Regions from separate parts of the Homo sapiens genome. Here region 1 is linked to region 2. The links come from fine-mapping of genetic effects on gene expression. Tissue or cell type: blood mononuclear cells. Region 2 holds a variant in brackets; the other region holds the start of a gene. All regions are shown on one strand. Distances are from middle to middle.

Region 1 (8,103 bases), 96 kb after region 2:
AAAGGAGATTGAGAGTGGTTGGCAGAAAATGAAGGAAGGGTGGTATTATTGATGATAAGGAAATCAAGTGTTCCAAGAAGGACAGACAGTTCATGGTGTCAAATATTGCTGAGAGGTCAAGTAAAGGAAAACTAAAAAATGCCCACTGGTGGCCAGGCACTATGGCTCACACCTGTAATCCCAGCACTTTGGGAGGCCAAAGCAGGTGGATTACTTGAGGTCAGGAGTTTGAGACCAGCCTGGGCAACAGAGCAAGACCCTGTCTCTACCAAAAAAATACAAAAAATTAGCCCGATGTGGTGGCACGCATCTGTGATCCCAACTACTCATAAGGCTGAGGTGGGAGGATTGCTTGAGCCCGGGGAGGTGAAGGTTGCAGTGAGCTGAGATTGTGCTACTGCACTCCAGCCTGGGTAACAGAGAGAGACCTTGTCTCAAAGGAAAAAAAAAGCCCACTGGTTTTAGAAACAGGGAGGTCAGTGGAGTAGGGAACAGCTCTGTTCTGGGCCCTGAGGACCTTGGACATCTTCACATAGCTGTGTGGCAAGGTCCATCACCGTGTGAACTGAGTTTGGCAGAATGCTTGGAGGTTCCTCCTGAAACTAAGGGAGACAAGCAACCTTGTAAGAAACGACAGTGACAGCAGCGCCCCTGGGCCCCTGGTTGGCTGCGTCTGGGATGCTCCCTTTGCCCCTCCTTGGGGTACAGCTGCGGACACACCACTGCCTGGCTGCAGTGTGGAGCTGGCGCCTCAGCAGCACCGTGGCCACCATCTGTGCTTTCTGTCATCTGGCCCCTATGGTTTGCTGTCATCTTGTGTGTCTAGGGACACAGGCTGCTGATCATGCTGTAGCTGTTTGAGTAAGAAATAAACAATCTAGGCTGGGCACAGTGGCACACACCTGTAATCCTAGCACTTTGGGAGGCCGACGCAGGTGGATCACTTGAGGTCAGGAGTTTGCCACCAGCCTGACTAATATGGTGAAACCCCGTCTCTACGAAATACAAAAAAATTAGCTGGACATGGTCCTGCATGCCTGTAATCCGAGCTACTTGTGAAGCTGAGACAGGAGAATCACTTGTACCTGGGAGGTGGAGGTTGCAGTGAGCCAAGATCTCACCATTGCGCTCCAGCGTGGGCAACAAGAGTAAAACTCCACCTCAAAAAAAAGAAAGAAAGAAACAATCTCTATCTTTTGTGCTCATTGCTGATCAAATCCATGTAAATATGGCAAACCAGCCTAGCATCTGTGGCAGTTGACGCCGGTAACCCTGTCAGCTGCTGGATTGCTGCCTAGGGACTGCTTGGATGCTTGGCAGTTGGTAGCCCTGTAAATAGGAAATATCCATTAGGAGAGCCTGCAGCCACCAGTCACAGAGTGATTACACGCCCCCTGTAGGAGATGTGAAAAAGAAAAAGAGGAAATCAAATATTCTGCAATCTTACAACTAGTAATGATGTATTTATTTTCAGCTTTTTATATACGTTTTTCAAGCACTTCCCAAGTATTTATAGAGTACTTACTATGTTCCAGGCTGGTGGCTGAGCAGTGAACAAACCAACCTAGGTCCTTATATCTGGAAACCTTAAGTTTGTGAACTTAAACACCCATATATACAATTGAGATCATATCATAAATATAATTTTGTATTCTATTTTTCACATTCTATTTCATAAGCATTACCCTCTGCCAATACTTTTTTTTCAAATACCACACATAATGGCTGCATAATGTTCAACTGAGTGTACAGAAGACAATAGATTTATCTATTTCTGTGCTGCAAAAAGCATAATTATCTTCCATTTCCCCTTCTATGAATAACTAGCTATTTTCCAAATTCTCCCCATTATTTAAAAAAAACCACACACACAACAAACTCTGGAATGGGCACCCTTCTCTTTGTCATTTTTGTTATTTCCATAGGATAGATTCCTAGATTAATTGAAGTGTTTAAGGCTCTTTATGTACAGCTTAATTCATTTTCAACATTGTACTAAACACGCTTCCTCAAGCATAGCAGTGCGTAATTCTCCACAATCTCCCCAGCACTGATATTAATAATGTAAGGCATCTTCTTAATCATGTGTGACTTTGCATGGTGCTTTAGACTTCTAGACATTCTCCATCCTCGTTGATCGTCTCAAGTTCAGATATAAAATTTCTGCCTTGATTCTAACACAGTGTACAGGGCCTACACTATATTCTGGGTGACAAGATGGCTTGGCTTTCCTTTCCTTCTCCCCCTGCTCCTAAGCTGGTCTCCTCACCTTTATCAAGTGCTATTTTTTCAACCATGCTTTATTGTGTAGGGGCCAAAGGGAAAGTTCCTCTTTGCCCTCTGAAGGTTCACTGAAAGCCAACTCATAAAAGGCAGATTTTTGGAGAAAAGGCAAATAAATGGATTATTTATTTATTTATTATTTATTTTTGAGATGGAGTCTCGCTCTGTCACCCAGGCTGGAGTGCAGTGGCGCGATCTCGGCTCACTGCAACCTCCGCCTCCCGGGTTCAAGCGATTCTCCCGCCTCAGCCTCCGGAGTAGCTGGGACTACAGACGCCCGCCACCACGCCCGGCCTTTACCGCCAGTTTTCACACAGAAAAGCGGGGGGAACATCAGAGTCGTGTTTTTAGGTTTTGTGGCTGGCTTTGGGGGTCTGGCCTCTGGGACTCGCCTTGGGTAAAAGGGATTCACTCTGTGAGGAGCCTCGCGGGAGAAAAGAACTGAGACTGGAGGCCTGGGAAGGTCAGAGGGAAACTGCCTCCCAGGCCTTCATTTTGGGGCGTTGTGTTCTGAGCCCCGATAATTGTAACATCTTCATAAGCGACTTTCTGGTGGTTATGGTGAATCGGGACACACGATGTATGGTGACCGACGGGGGAGCCGGGAGCCCAGCGGGGTTAGGGTTCAGGTGAGGGTTTAGGGTCGGGGCGAGCGCGGCGCGGCCCGGATGCGCAGCGTCACCGCGCCAGACCCTCCGCTCAGCTGCCGTGGGCTCTCCCCCTCCCCGACCATAGACGGCGCAGGCCTCCAGTCATCCCAGAGCGGCCCCGGAAGAATCCGGGCGGAACCGCGGCTGGCTTCCGGTTCCCGGCGTTCTCGGAGGCGTACTGAGGCCCCGCAGGGGGCGGGGAAGCCTGCGTGTGCGCAGCTCGGCCCGGCCCGCCCTCTTCATCCTAGCCCGCCCCCTCCCCGGCTCTGGACCCGGTTCTGTGGGAGGGTCCGTTCCGGGCTCGGTGCGACTGCGCAGCTCCTCGGCGCTTCCTCGGTGGCTTCCCCGGGTCGAGCAAACAGGTGGGGCAGTGTCGGACCAGGAAGGAGCGCCAAGCGGGCAGGCAGGCGGGGAGGGCGCGGGGAGGGCGCGGGGAGGCGGCGGCCAGTCCAGGAGGAGCCTGTTCTGGGTGCCGCGGGAGCCACCGACGGGCTGCAGAGGCCGGGAGGAGGCGACCGCGGCGCGGCCCTAGAAGGCTGGACTGAGGACCACAGCTGGCTTCCGGCCTCTCCCCGGAGCCTGGGGCCTTCGGCAGCATCCCCGCGGCCTCCTTCTCACGTCCTCAGCCTTGGTGAGGCTGCACCCTCACGTGGCTCTTTGCCCCAGGTTGGCCAGGCAGGTAGAACGGCCCTGCACCCCATTTCCAGGGCCTTCAGCAGGTCTGGACCACGGGAACTGCCAGCTTTCACCCCTTAGCCGGGCGTCCCTGGATCCCCCCGGGCTCTGGCTCTGGCCGTTCTGGGATTTCAGGAGTCACTGAGCAGTAGGGCACGTCGGCCCGTGCTGCATAGTGACCTGCCTCCCGCGACCCAGGAGGCCACAGCAGCAATCAGCTTCTGCCTCCTGGCCATCCTTCCACACCCCTGGTTGAATGGGGCTGAGCCTGAGTTCTCCCCACTGAAGGTAAGTTCGGGGAGACTTCAGGCCAGGGCAGTCTCCTGTCTTCTCTTGGAAACCACAGCAGCCCATGCACACAGAATGGCAGCCACATTCCAGCTTCCAGGGCACCAGGTGAGTTAACCCTCCTTCCTGCCCACCTCTTCATCTTCATCCCCATCCCAGTCAGAAGCTACTCTCCTCTGGAGCCGTGAGCCCGGCAACTGGTAAGGCCAGCCAGGGGCTCATAGCAACCGTGAGGAAAGGGTTCTGAGAGGTAGACTCGCCCTCCTGCAGGGAGAGGGGCTCTGAGCTCAGCTGGGTCCCCGTGTAGCTGAAGTTGGCTGGTCCTCAGCGCTCTCAGCTGCCCCATCAGGGACCTGCTGATACACAGTTCATACTGACCACAGCAGGGCCCTGGGTAGTGGGGCCCCACCAGGTCAGGGCCCTTTTAGTGCAGGCTGCTGCCCCGTGGGCATGGCCTGGGCAGCGGCGATGTTTTGTTGCAGGAGATGCCGCTGACCTTCCAGGATGTGGCCGTGTACTTCTCTCAGGCGGAGGGGCGGCAGCTGGGCCCCCAGCAGCGGGCGCTCTACCGGGATGTGATGCTGGAGAACTATGGGAACGTGGCCTCTCTGGGTGAGGCTCTCTGCACTTGGCCTGGTTCGCAGTGGGGGCCTCTGAGGAGCTTGGGAGGCTGCTTTGGCTCTTTGGATCCCAAAGAAGAGGGTCCTGCCCCTTGTCCCCGGGTATCAGTCTGATCTCTACAGAAGGAACATTTCCCATGGGAAAAGCCTGCCTTGCTCCCCAGTTCTAGGGACTTCACTCCCTGTTGCCAGTGGCCCCACTGGTGTCCCTCCAGTGGCAGGAGAGCTGATGAGTGGATTCTCCTTCAGTACTTAGTCTCAGCCCACGGGCCCCCTGACCAACACACGTGCAGGCGTACACACGTGCACACAGGGCCCATCTCTCCACACCTGGCCTGGAAGGCCCAGTGGGCCATGCCAGCTCACCAGTGTCCTCATCCTCAACAGGATTCCCTGTCCCTAAGCCGGAGTTGATCTCCCAGCTGGAGCAGGGGAAGGAACTTTGGGTCCTGAATCTTCTGGGAGCTGAGGAACCAGATATCTTGAAAAGCTGCCAGAAAGGTGAGAATGGATGGGATGCTAATCCTGGGAGCAGCCTCCCAATCCTGCCTTAAGAGGCTCCAAGCGAGGGACAGCTGGGGCATGGCGTTCATATTAATGGCCTCCCCCAGGGGCAGTCTCACAGATACAGCCCCTCTACAAATGTGAGCATGTGCACATGCTTTAGAAGTTTTATCTTGCTGGTCTGTTTCTTTGCTTTAAAAATATATATATACTACTTCTGATCATATTTTTGTTTTGGTGATTTACCTTGATAACAACTTCATTCCCTTCTTTATAATACACTTATTTCCTTTTGACAATAGATATCGGTACCCTACCATGTCCTTTTTATTCTTCACTCCATTCTCTCCTTCATTTGCCAAGTTTAGTCAGTAGTAGTCTTTTTTTTTTTTTTTTTTTTTTTTTCGAGACAGAATCTCACTCTGTCACCAGGCTGGAGTGCAGTGGCACGATCTCGGCTCACTGCAACCTCCACGTACCAGGCTCAGGCAATCCTCCCACCTCAGCTTTCCAAGTAGCTAGGACTACAGGCACATGTCACCATACCTGGCTAGTTTTTTTTTTATTTTTGTTGAGACAAGGTTTCACCACGTTGCCCAAACTGGTCTTAAATTCTTGAGATCAAGTGATCCATGTCGACCTCCCAAAGTGCTGAGATTACAAGCATGAGCCACTGCACCTGACCAGTGGCTTTTTTTAATGTTTACCTTTGTTCTATTGAATATACATCTACTACTTGATATGTCAGCTGTAAGTATTATCTTTGACTGCCAGCTACTGAGACAGTCAACAAGCTTGTTCTACTTTTCTCCCTTTTCCTCCTCATTCCTTTCCCAGTTTTTGTTGGTTATATTGTTTCTACACTGTCAGAACATATAACACTTTACAACTCATATCCGCAGCTTTGTTACTGGCTTATATCTCCAGTTAAGTATGTTATTAATAATTGTTTATCTCTGGTCCTTTTACCAAAAATTTCCCCATCTCTTGGTTGGCTGGAGCTTGTCTTCTAGTTTATTCAGAAAGGCTCGTGAAAAATATACCCCATATTTGTGCACATTCAAAATTGGTTGAATAAAGCATTTGGTTTCTACATGTAAGAGCTAAGATTGTAAAATTATATCGTTTTCTCAAAGTGCAGCTTAAGTTGCATCTCACAAAATTTTAATATGTTGTATTTTCATTAACATTTAGTTCAAAATGTTATCTAGTTTTTCTTGTGACTTCTTCTTTGACCCAATGATTATTTGGACATGCATTAATTTCCAGATAGTTGGTGTTTTCCTAGTTATCTTATTGTTATTGTCATTTAATTCCACTGTGGTCAGAGAACATACTCTGTATTATTTCATTCCTTTCATATTTGTTGCTTCTTGTTTTATGACCCCAAATGTGGTCTCTCCCAGTACAAATACCACGTGCACTGAAAAAGAATGTGTATTCTGCCATTTGGGGGTTAGATAAATATCAGTTAAGTCAAGGTGGTTGATGGTATTGTTCAGGTCTTCTGTATCCTTGCTGATTTTTTTTTTTTTTTTTTTTTTGGTCTAGTTATTCTTTCAGTTGCTGAGAGAGGGGTGTTAAAATACAGAAGTATGATTGTGGAATTGTCTTTTCTTCACTTTAATTTTTGTAGTGTTGGCTTCATGTATCTTGAAGCTGTATTATAAGACTTACTTCACTTATGACTATCATTATGAGAGATAAGAGAATTCCTGTTTGTCTCTGGTAATACATTTTGTTTTGAAATATATTTTATCTAATATTAATGTAGCAATTCCATCCTTCTTATACTTACTGTTAGCATAGTATATCTTCTTTCATCCATTTAATTTCAACCTGTCTTTACACTTAAAGTGAATCTCTTGCAGATATCATACAATTGGGTCTTGTTTCTTCATCCTAACAATCTTTGTCTTTTAATTGTAGTGTTTAGTCTGTTAATGTTTAATGTAATTGTTTATATGGTTCAGGAATGCACTTGTGCATAATATTTTATTTTTTACTTACATTTACCTCTTCTGTTTTTTAAATTCCTCTTTCCGGCCTTTATTTGGGTTATTTGAATACTTTTTATAACTCCATTTAAATTTTATTATTTGCTTTTTACATAATCTTTTTGCATTATTTTTTACAGTGATTTTCCTAAGGTTTACAGTATACATAAGTTTCCACAGTTTACTTACAGTTCATTTGTGTACTACTTCACATAAATCCAGAAATCTTGTAACCATCCCTCCCATCCTTTTTGTTATAGTTGTTATGTGTAATACATCTACATAACATTTTAAACTCAGAAAGACAATGTGATAATTTCAGTTTTAAACAGTTATATAGTTTATAAAAAAGGAAAAGGAAAAAGGCCAAATAAATAGTATTTTAGCTGTTTCTGACATGTAAGGACTTTAGAAGTCATCACTGTGTCCTAACAAGTAAAAAGCTGAACAAACTGAAAAATCAACAAATCTTAGCTCCATCAGAGAGGTGTGAGGTCAGAGGACAAATCACTGCTCTCAAAATTGGAGAGGTATGGCCGGGTGCGGTGGCTCACACCTGTAATCCCAGCACTTTGGGAGGCCGAGGCAGGTGGATCAGTTGAGGCCAGGAGTTCAAGACCAGCCTGGCCAACATGGTGAAACCCTGTCTCTATTAAAAACACAAAATTAGCTGGGCGTGGTGGTGGGTTCCTGTAATCCCAGCTACTCGGGAGGCTGAGGCAGGAGAATCGCTGAAACTCAGGAGGTAAAGGTTGCAGTGAGCCAAGATTGCACTACTGCACTCCAGCCTGAGTGACAGAGCGAGACTCTAAAAAAAAAAAAAGAAAAAAAAAAAACTCTGGAGAGATAAACAGGCAGATACAAAGAATCACAACCACATCTTGTGAGCAATAATCTCCCAGGGAACCGGTGGCCAGATGGGTAAGCCTAAAATGTAACTGGCAAATTGCTAGAGGCTCAGTGTGGACAACTCTGAAAAAAAACTCCAGGGGGACCCGGTCATGGGAGGACCCCATACTTTTGTGAGCTTTACCTCCAGGAGCTCTATTAGGTACTGACAGTGAATATCAGAGAAAAATCTCCTTG
Region 2 (8,103 bases):
TTAAAGAGAAATAACACCTTACAGATGCAGTCTCTTTCTAAACTTCCCAGATCCATTCCCTTTAAACAATCCTCCCTCAGCATGGTTTTTAGACTTGATTTGTTTTGTCTTAGAAATGGAGTCTTGCCATGTTCCCCAGGCTGGTCTCAAATTCCTGAACTGAAGTGGTCCTCACTCTGCCTCTCAAATAGCTGGGACTATAGGTTGCCCTCACCTCCTGCTGTGAGGTCAGTTCCTAACAGGCCACTGACCTGTAGCGGTCCACAGCCTGAGGGTTGGGGACCCCTGCTATAGGTGCACACCACCACACCTGTTTTTTTTTTTAATTTTGTAAAAATGAAGCCTTGATATGTCGCCCAGGCTGGTCTTGAACTCCTAGCCTCAAGTGGTCCTCCCACCTAGTCCTCATAAAGTACTGGGATTGTAGGCATGAGCCACTGCACCCAGTCTCCACTCCTATTTATTATTGAACACTATTCCATTGTATGGCTGATGTGGTTTGCATCTGTGTCCCCGCCCAAACCTCATGCTGAAAGGTAATACCCAATGCTGGAGGTGGAGACTGGTGGGAAGTGATTGGATCGTGGGGGTGGCTTTTCATGAATGGTTTAGTACCATGCCCTTAAGTTATGGTCTCATGATAGAGTTCTCCTGAGATCTGGTTGTCCACCTCCGCCTCCCAAAGTGCTGGGATTACAGGCGTGAGCCACCGCACCCAACCTGTCATTTTTATTATAACCCTTCTAATGGTATGAAATGGCACCTCCCCGTGGCTTCCATTCGCATTTCTCTAATAGCCAACAATGCCGAAGGCTTCATGTACCCATTACCCACTTTGTATCTTCCTTGATGTCTACTCACATCTTCTGCCCATTTAATTAGGTTGTTTCCCTTTTCAGAGTTTTTTTTTTTTTTTTAAGTTTTATTGGGCTATAATTCACATACCATATAATTCACCCATTTTGTACAATTCAATGATTTTGGCATATTATTTTTTAACTATGGTAAAGTACATGTTAAATAAAATGGCTCGGCCATTGTTTCGGACCGAGCTCCTGCGCTAGGGCCCAACAGAGCAGCCCAAAGCGGAACCGAGTCACGCGCGCCGGACGCCACCCGACAGGAGGGGAAACGGGGCAGCTCTCAAAACCCTGGAGGCGCAGACCGTCCACACGGGACAGGGACGCCCGCTCGGCTCCGCTCCGCGCTGATCCTCAAGGTCTCGCGGTTTCCCCGCCGCCCACCCGGACGCCGACGAAAGCCAGCGAGCTCCTCAGCCTCAGGTGACTGGAATTCTGACCCCAGACCACGGGACGCGTTCTCCCGCTTTACCCTCACTCTGCGCGGGCGGGGAGGGAGACGCGGGCGCAGGCCGCAGTTTCTACCTCAGAAACGGAAACACAACACCGCCTTCTTTTTCTTTGGGGAAAGAAAAAAAAAAAACTGTCTAAGACGAGGTCTGGGACCCCGCCGGCGACCCCCGATTCCCCCGGGCGGGGAGGGGGCGGGACCTGGCGCGGCCTCGGCTCCGCCCCTCGGGCCAGCGGACCACAGTGGGGCGGTCATTGCTGCCTTCCTAGAGCGGCCCGGAAGTGGCTCTCAGGGCGCTTCCGGGGACCAGGCCCGCTTTTGGCTGCATCAGCCGGGGATTGCCGGCGCCAGGTGCTGGGGGCGACTCGGACAGCGGGAGCGTGGGGTGGAGTAGGATGGAGTCTCCCTCCCGAGCTGGGGGTGTGGGCCTAGGAAAGGCTGCTTCGCCGCTGTGTTCGGAGAGCTCTGGATACTGCGGGGCTTTTCCGCGGAGGAGCGCCCGCCGGTAGGTTGGCCCCGAACCGTGGGGGCGGCGACGGCCGAGTGCCAATTTGACTCTGTGCACCAAGGTCCCCGCGCCCCGGAACGGGCGACGCCGCGCCCCCATCAGAGCCGCGGGTACGGAGTCAGGGTGCGAACCCGGCCTTCCAAGCCGCGCGACCGGAAGCGGGCAGCTCGGAGGCCTTCCCGGATGGCTCTTTGGAGTGGGAAGGAGCTCCTGGTGCTGGCGGGACGGTGAAGGAGTTGGCAGTGGGTGGTCGTTGACTCCCAGGGAGAATGGGGCGCCGTGAAGCCCGTGGGGAGCTCCTGGGCTCCCCCAGCGCTGTGCAGAGTGGCCTGACAAGTGCCTCGAGGACAGGAGCTGTGCCCCGCTGAGCTCTGCTCCAGTACCTGGTGTGCTGAGGTGGGCACGTGCGTTTCCTCTGGCATAGCAGGTGCTTGTGCTGCTGCACTGCTCCTTCAGGTGCGTCGGAACCCTCTTTAGTTGCCGCACTTGCCTCTGTTGCCAGCCGTTGCTCAGCTCTTCCAGCCCGGGGGTTGGGGCTGTGGTGGAAACAGCTGGGACTTCTGAATAGACAGGTCTAGGCTTCAGTCCTTGACTTTGGCAGCTGTGTTTAGAGCTTTGATTTCTTTTTACTTTTCTTTTCTTCTTCCCTGCCTCCCCTCCCTCCCCCCTCCCTCCATTCGTTCGTTCCTTCCTTCCTTCCTCACAGCATCTCTGTTGTCCAGGCTGGAGTGCAGCGGCTCGATTTCGTCTCACTGCAGCCACGACTTCCTGGGCTCAAGGGATCCTCTGTCCTCTCAGCCTTCTGAGTAGCTGGGACTACAGACGTGCACCACCACGCCTGGCTAGTTTTTTAAATTTTTTGTAGAAACGGGGTCTTGCTATGATGCCCAGGTTGGTCTCCAACTCCTGGGCTCAAGCGATCCGCTGGCCTCACCTTCACAAAGTGCTGAGATTTCAGGCTTGAGCCACTGCACCTGGCCTAGAGCCTTATCTCCCTCTCTGTCAGGTGAGAATGGTAATTCTTCTTGCCCACTGTTGTGAAGGATTCAAGATTGAATAGTTAAATGGTCTCAGTGTGGTCTGTGGCGCCAGCTGCAGTGTCCCTGTGTTCCCCGGACCGTTCCCCTAGTTCATTCTTTCATCTATTAATTTACTTGGAGAACTTGTGCTGTTTCCTGGTCCTCCTCCCTGCCCCCTACTTCTCTGCCAATTCCTGCTTGTCCTTCATGCCTTAGATGTCACTTCCTCTGGGAGGCCTCCGCTCCTCCTGGGACTGACATGGACCCCTCTGCCACCTGCTTCCAGGGCCATCTCCGCAGCACTGACTGTCATTGGTAGTTCACACTGTCAGCATGCTGATGATGGGGACCATATCAACCCTCACTCGCTGGCCCAAAGGATGTGAGAGTCACTGGTCTTCTCTCCTCCACCCCACTCTAGGCATCTGCATCTGGGACCGACCTCCTGGGCTGGCTGATCAAAGAGGAAGCAGCAGCAATGTCTGCTGTGGGGGCTGCAACTCCATACCTGCATCATCCTGGTGATAGTCACAGTGGCCGAGTGAGTTTCTTGGGGGCCCAGCTTCCTCCAGAGGTGGCAGCAATGGCCCGGCTACTAGGGGACCTAGACAGGAGCACGTTCAGAAAGTTGCTGAAGTTTGTGGTCAGCAGCCTGCAGGGGGAGGACTGCCGAGAGGCTGTGCAGCGTCTTGGGGTCAGCGCCAACCTGCCGGAGGAGCAGCTGGGTGCCCTGCTGGCAGGCATGCACACACTGCTCCAGCAGGCCCTCCGTCTGCCCCCCACCAGCCTGAAGCCTGACACCTTCAGGGACCAGCTCCAGGAGCTCTGCATCCCCCAAGACCTGGTCGGGGACTTGGCCAGCGTGGTATTTGGGAGCCAGCGGCCCCTCCTTGATTCTGTGGCCCAGCAGCAGGGGGCCTGGCTGCCGCATGTTGCTGACTTTCGGTGGCGGGTGGATGTAGCAATCTCCACCAGTGCCCTGGCTCGCTCCCTGCAGCCGAGCGTCCTGATGCAGCTGAAGCTTTCAGATGGGTCAGCATACCGCTTTGAGGTCCCCACAGCCAAGTTCCAGGAGCTGCGGTACAGCGTGGCCCTGGTCCTAAAGGAGATGGCAGATCTGGAGAAGAGGTGTGAGCGCAGACTGCAGGACTGACCCCTCACTTGACCAGTCCCATTCAGATCCGGCTTGGACAGGCACCTGAGATGGTGCCAAAGTGCAGCTGACTCTTCCCACGACAGCCCTGCCCTTCCCATGAGGCAGGCTCTTCAGTGAGTGTTTGAACGTAATTATGTAGTTTTCTGTTTAATTGAAAAAGAGAGCTATGCCTTTTTTTCTTTTTGGAAGTAAAGCAGCTAAAAACATGTTTCTATAGGTGAGTGTTGGACCTCACACCCTCCCCTTCCCTGTACATTTGTCTTTGGTGCTGGACGTGGCCATGTGAGGCCAGGTTGAGGCCCTTTGTAGACAACATACAGTTGCTCAGCCTGGCCCCATGTAGCCAGGTGCTTTTGTAGATCTTGTGTTTTAGGTTGGGCATTTTCACTCTTCTGCCTTAAATCCCTGACCCCATGGAGCTGACATTCTAGTGCGGCTGAGGGGAGGGGAAACATTGTAAAATAAATCATAAAAATTAACTGGAATAGCTCATCAGAGGATGGCGTGTGATGCAGCAAGTAGGGTGGGGTCTGCGTGCTGATGGGGCGACCTTCCTTGAGGGTGTGACATCTGAGCGAGGACTTGAAGGAGCCGGGGGCACAGCGCTCTGAGGGGAGCAGCACAAGGTGGGGAGGACGGGGCTCAGGCGGCCAGTGTGGGGAGGCCTGACGTGCTTAAGGCCCGCCTGGCTGCAGCCAAGCAGGTGGAGATCATTGTGGGGAGGCGACGTTGGGGAGGGTACAGAGGTCAAGGCCTGA[G/A]AGCCTTTTAAGGACTTTGGCTCAATTCTGAGTGACAGAGGAGCCCTTCTGAGGGTTTTCAGCAGAGGAGAGACGTGATCTGGTGATTGGCTGCTGTGTGGAGGGGTGCAAGGGAGGAGGCTAGAGCCCAGCAGAGAGGCTGTCACCAGGGTGGAGTTGGTGGCAGGGACCTCTCCCGGGTGCCTCTAGGGCAGGTGTGTGCAGGGGTTGTAGCCAGCTTTGCAGCTTCCAGCATAACTGTGTTCCAGGAGGGGCCTTGGTGCTCGGTCTCTGCAGAGCCATTTTCGGTCAGCTGGCTTCCAGCTGACTGTTCCTGCCTCCGTGGAGCACTTCTGGACCATGTCTAGTCTGTTCTCTGCTGAGAAACCTCCCCTTGTCTTTGAGTGCCTGGGGTTGCTTGGCTGTTTGTCTTGTCTGCAGTTTTTGGGTTGTCTCCTCCACTAGCCTGGATTTCTTCCTCATCCCTCCATGGGCAGTTCTGACATGTCAGGGTACAGAGGAGTACCTGGGGGTGGGGTCAGTAGACTCTGGGAGGAGCCCAGGTGCCCTCTAAGGTGCATGCTTGTGGGTCCTGCCATCTGGTCGATCACTCAGCTTTGTCCCACCCTCACTGAGTTCCAGGTAAAGCCCTTCTCTCTCCCCGAAGGCACTGTCCCCCCACTGTCATCGGATCAGGAATATGACCAGCCACTTCCTGCATTCTCTGTCCCCAGATGTGGATGGGGCTGGGGCAGCTGGGACCATGTTGCCTTTCTCACTCACTGGCCCTGGCCCTGCAGGAACAGCAGCTTTAGGGACAGCCCCATCCTTCTGCTTCTCCCAGCTGCTTAGCAAAGCCTGTGTGGAGCCCAGAGCATGGACCTGCCCTCGGTCCTCAGGCTGACCTCTCGCCGTCTCTCATTGGGAATCTGTGTTTGCCTCAATTCATCTGTGAACCCTTGGGCTTGTCTCAAGCGGGGACCCAGGCAAATCAAGACACAGCCATGAAAAGACAGCTTATGAGACACAGGCAGGGGAGTGGGCCATTCCTGGGACTGGGGCTGGCACTGCCCGAGTATAGGGGATTGAGGGATGGGGGATCAAGTGCAGGGACAGCGGCTGGCCTCAAGGCCACACACAGGATTTTGGTCATTCCACTGGGGCAAGGGGGAGCAGTGGGGTTTTAATCAGGGCAGACATGATCCAGTTGGACTTGAGATCCCTACAGCGTGGAGCAGACTTAGAGGCCACTTCCTCTGACTCAGCAGTGAGCAAACTCTTCCCACAAAGGGCCAGAGAGTAAACATTTTAGATTTTGTGGGCCATGAAGTTTCTGTCCACCCTGCCATGGTGGCTTGAAAGCAGTCACACAATACGTAAACAAATGTATATGGCTGTGTTCCAATACCATCTTTTTTTTTTTTTGAGACGGGAGTTTCACTCCTGTTGCCCAGGCTGGTGTGCAGTGGCACGATCTCGACTCATTGCAACCTCTGCCTCCCAGGTTCAAGCAATTCTCATGTCTCAGCCTCCCAGGCAGCTGGGATTACAGGCATGAGCCACCGAGCCTGGCCTCCAATGATATTTTTTTAATGGATATTGAAATTTTCCTTTTTTTTTGAGACAAGGTCTCCCCATCATCCAGTCTGGAATGCAATGGCACGATCATGGCTCACTGTAGCCTCAACCTCCTGGGCTCACAGGCACACCACACCACACCCGGCTAATTTTCAGATTTTTTGTAGAGATGGGGTTTTGCCACGTTGCCCAGGCTGGTCTTGAATTCCTGGGCTCTGGTGATCTGCCCACCTCGGCCTCCCAAAGTGCTGGTTTTACAGCAATGAGCCACCACACCCAGCCATGAAATTTTAATTTCATGTGTCACAAAGTATTTTTTTCCATTGAAAAACCATTCTTAGTCCAGGCATGGTTGGCGCCAACCCCATGAGCCCACTGGACCCCTCCAGTACAGAGCACCTGTCCATCCTTGTCAGTGGCCAGTCTCCATTAGACCTGGACTCCAGGGCAGAGGCCAGCCCTGTCCATCTTTGTCCCCGTGGCTTGCACAAGGCCTTGCACAGAGAACGGATGTCTGCATCTGGGAAATTACTCCCTTGGTTTTCTTGGCCTTAGTTCTCTGTGGAAACTTGCTGGTGATTTCCCTCTCCTGTGGCACTGTCCTGAGCTCAAAGCCTGGATGCCTCCCCACCTGCATCACTCACTCATTCAGCAAACATTTCTGGGGCTCTGAGTCAAGCTGCATGCACTGGGGACTTGAGGATTTATAAAATGGCCTGGACCCGGCCCTTGCTCTGCTTCACTTTGTGAAGCTTCCAGAAAGGTCCAGATAGTTTCAATTCAGTGTCATAAATGAAAGATTATTCTGATAGTTGAGATAAAAAGCAATTCCAGGCCTAGGTTATAGATTTAATTTATTGTCTCCAAAACAGAAACCCAAAATGTTTTTATTTATATATTGTGGAGACAGGGCCTCACTCTGTCACCCAGGCTAGAGTGCAGTGGTGCGATCACAGCTCACTGTGGTCTCCGAACTCCTGGGGTCACGTGATCCTTCCTTGGCCTCTCAAAGTGCTGGAATTACAGGCGTGAGCCACCGTGCCTGGCCTGGAAACTCTTTAGATGAGCTTACCGAAGCCCGAATTGCAGTGCAGTGTGAACAGGTTAACAGGATATTCTAGCACCTGCACTACCCCATGAGCAGCCCCTCTTCCTCTCCCTCTCCACAAAAGAACCACCAGCCTGTGTGCCAGGGGCCACCTGGATGCTTCCATGTGATACTCAGATCTCAAAGCTGTGCAGTAGCTTGAATTTAAGTCATGTGCTCACACCCTTGGCTCTCAGCAAGCTGCCCCATGGACATGATGTGTCATTTCCACATCGTGCAGCTAGAAGAGGACTCCTCCTCAGCTCGGCATGGTGGCTCACGCCTGTCATCCCAGCACTTAGGGAGGCCGAGGCGGGCGGATCACGAGGTCAGAAGATCGAGACCAGCTGGCTAACACAGTGAAACCCCGTCTCTATTAAAAATACAAAAAAATTAGCCGGGCGTGGTAGCAGGCACCTGTAGTCCCAGCTACTCGGGAGGCTGAGGCAGGAGAATGGCGTGAACCCAGGTGGCGGAGCTTGCAGTGAGCCGAGACCGCACCACTGCACTTCAGCCTGAGGGACAGAGCGAGATTCCGTCTCAAAAAAAAAGAAGACTCCTCCTCCCATCCCTCCGTGGCTAATATCTAACCTGGATTGTTGGACTTTAGGTTTACTTCTATTGAACTGACCCAGCTGCCTTATTCTCAGTTGTACCGTGACATTTAGGTAAAGAAACCACTAAGGGCTGAGAGGAAAAATAATCCT

What was found. PIP is the estimated chance that this variant, and not a neighbour inherited with it, causes the effect.
Region 1: ZNF251 starts here. The variant in region 2 is fine-mapped to the expression of ZNF251 in blood mononuclear cells (TOPMed, PIP 0.97).

What each region holds. Positions count from the first base shown.
Region 1 is chr8:144,750,597-144,758,699 of GRCh38, reverse strand. It overlaps ZNF251 (zinc finger protein 251), which reads left to right and starts at 3,169. Exons shown (of 5, transcript NM_138367.2): 1 at 3,169-3,295; 2 at 3,897-4,004; 3 at 4,379-4,508; 4 at 4,904-5,017. The coding sequence starts at 3,972. It overlaps LOC107986986 (a long non-coding RNA gene), which reads right to left. Exons shown (of 3, transcript XR_001746149.3): 3 at 1-1,394.
Region 2 is chr8:144,846,552-144,854,654 of GRCh38, reverse strand. COMMD5 (COMM domain containing 5) reads left to right here and starts at 1,607. Exons shown (of 2, transcript NM_014066.4): 1 at 1,607-1,816; 2 at 3,260-4,479. The coding sequence starts at 3,317. The coding sequence ends at 3,991. It also overlaps a transcript of ZNF7 not described here. RefSeq lists enhancers at 987-1,086, 1,637-1,966, 1,544-2,392 and silencers at 1,377-1,566, 3,599-3,750. The variant G/A (reference allele first, on the strand shown) is at 4,753.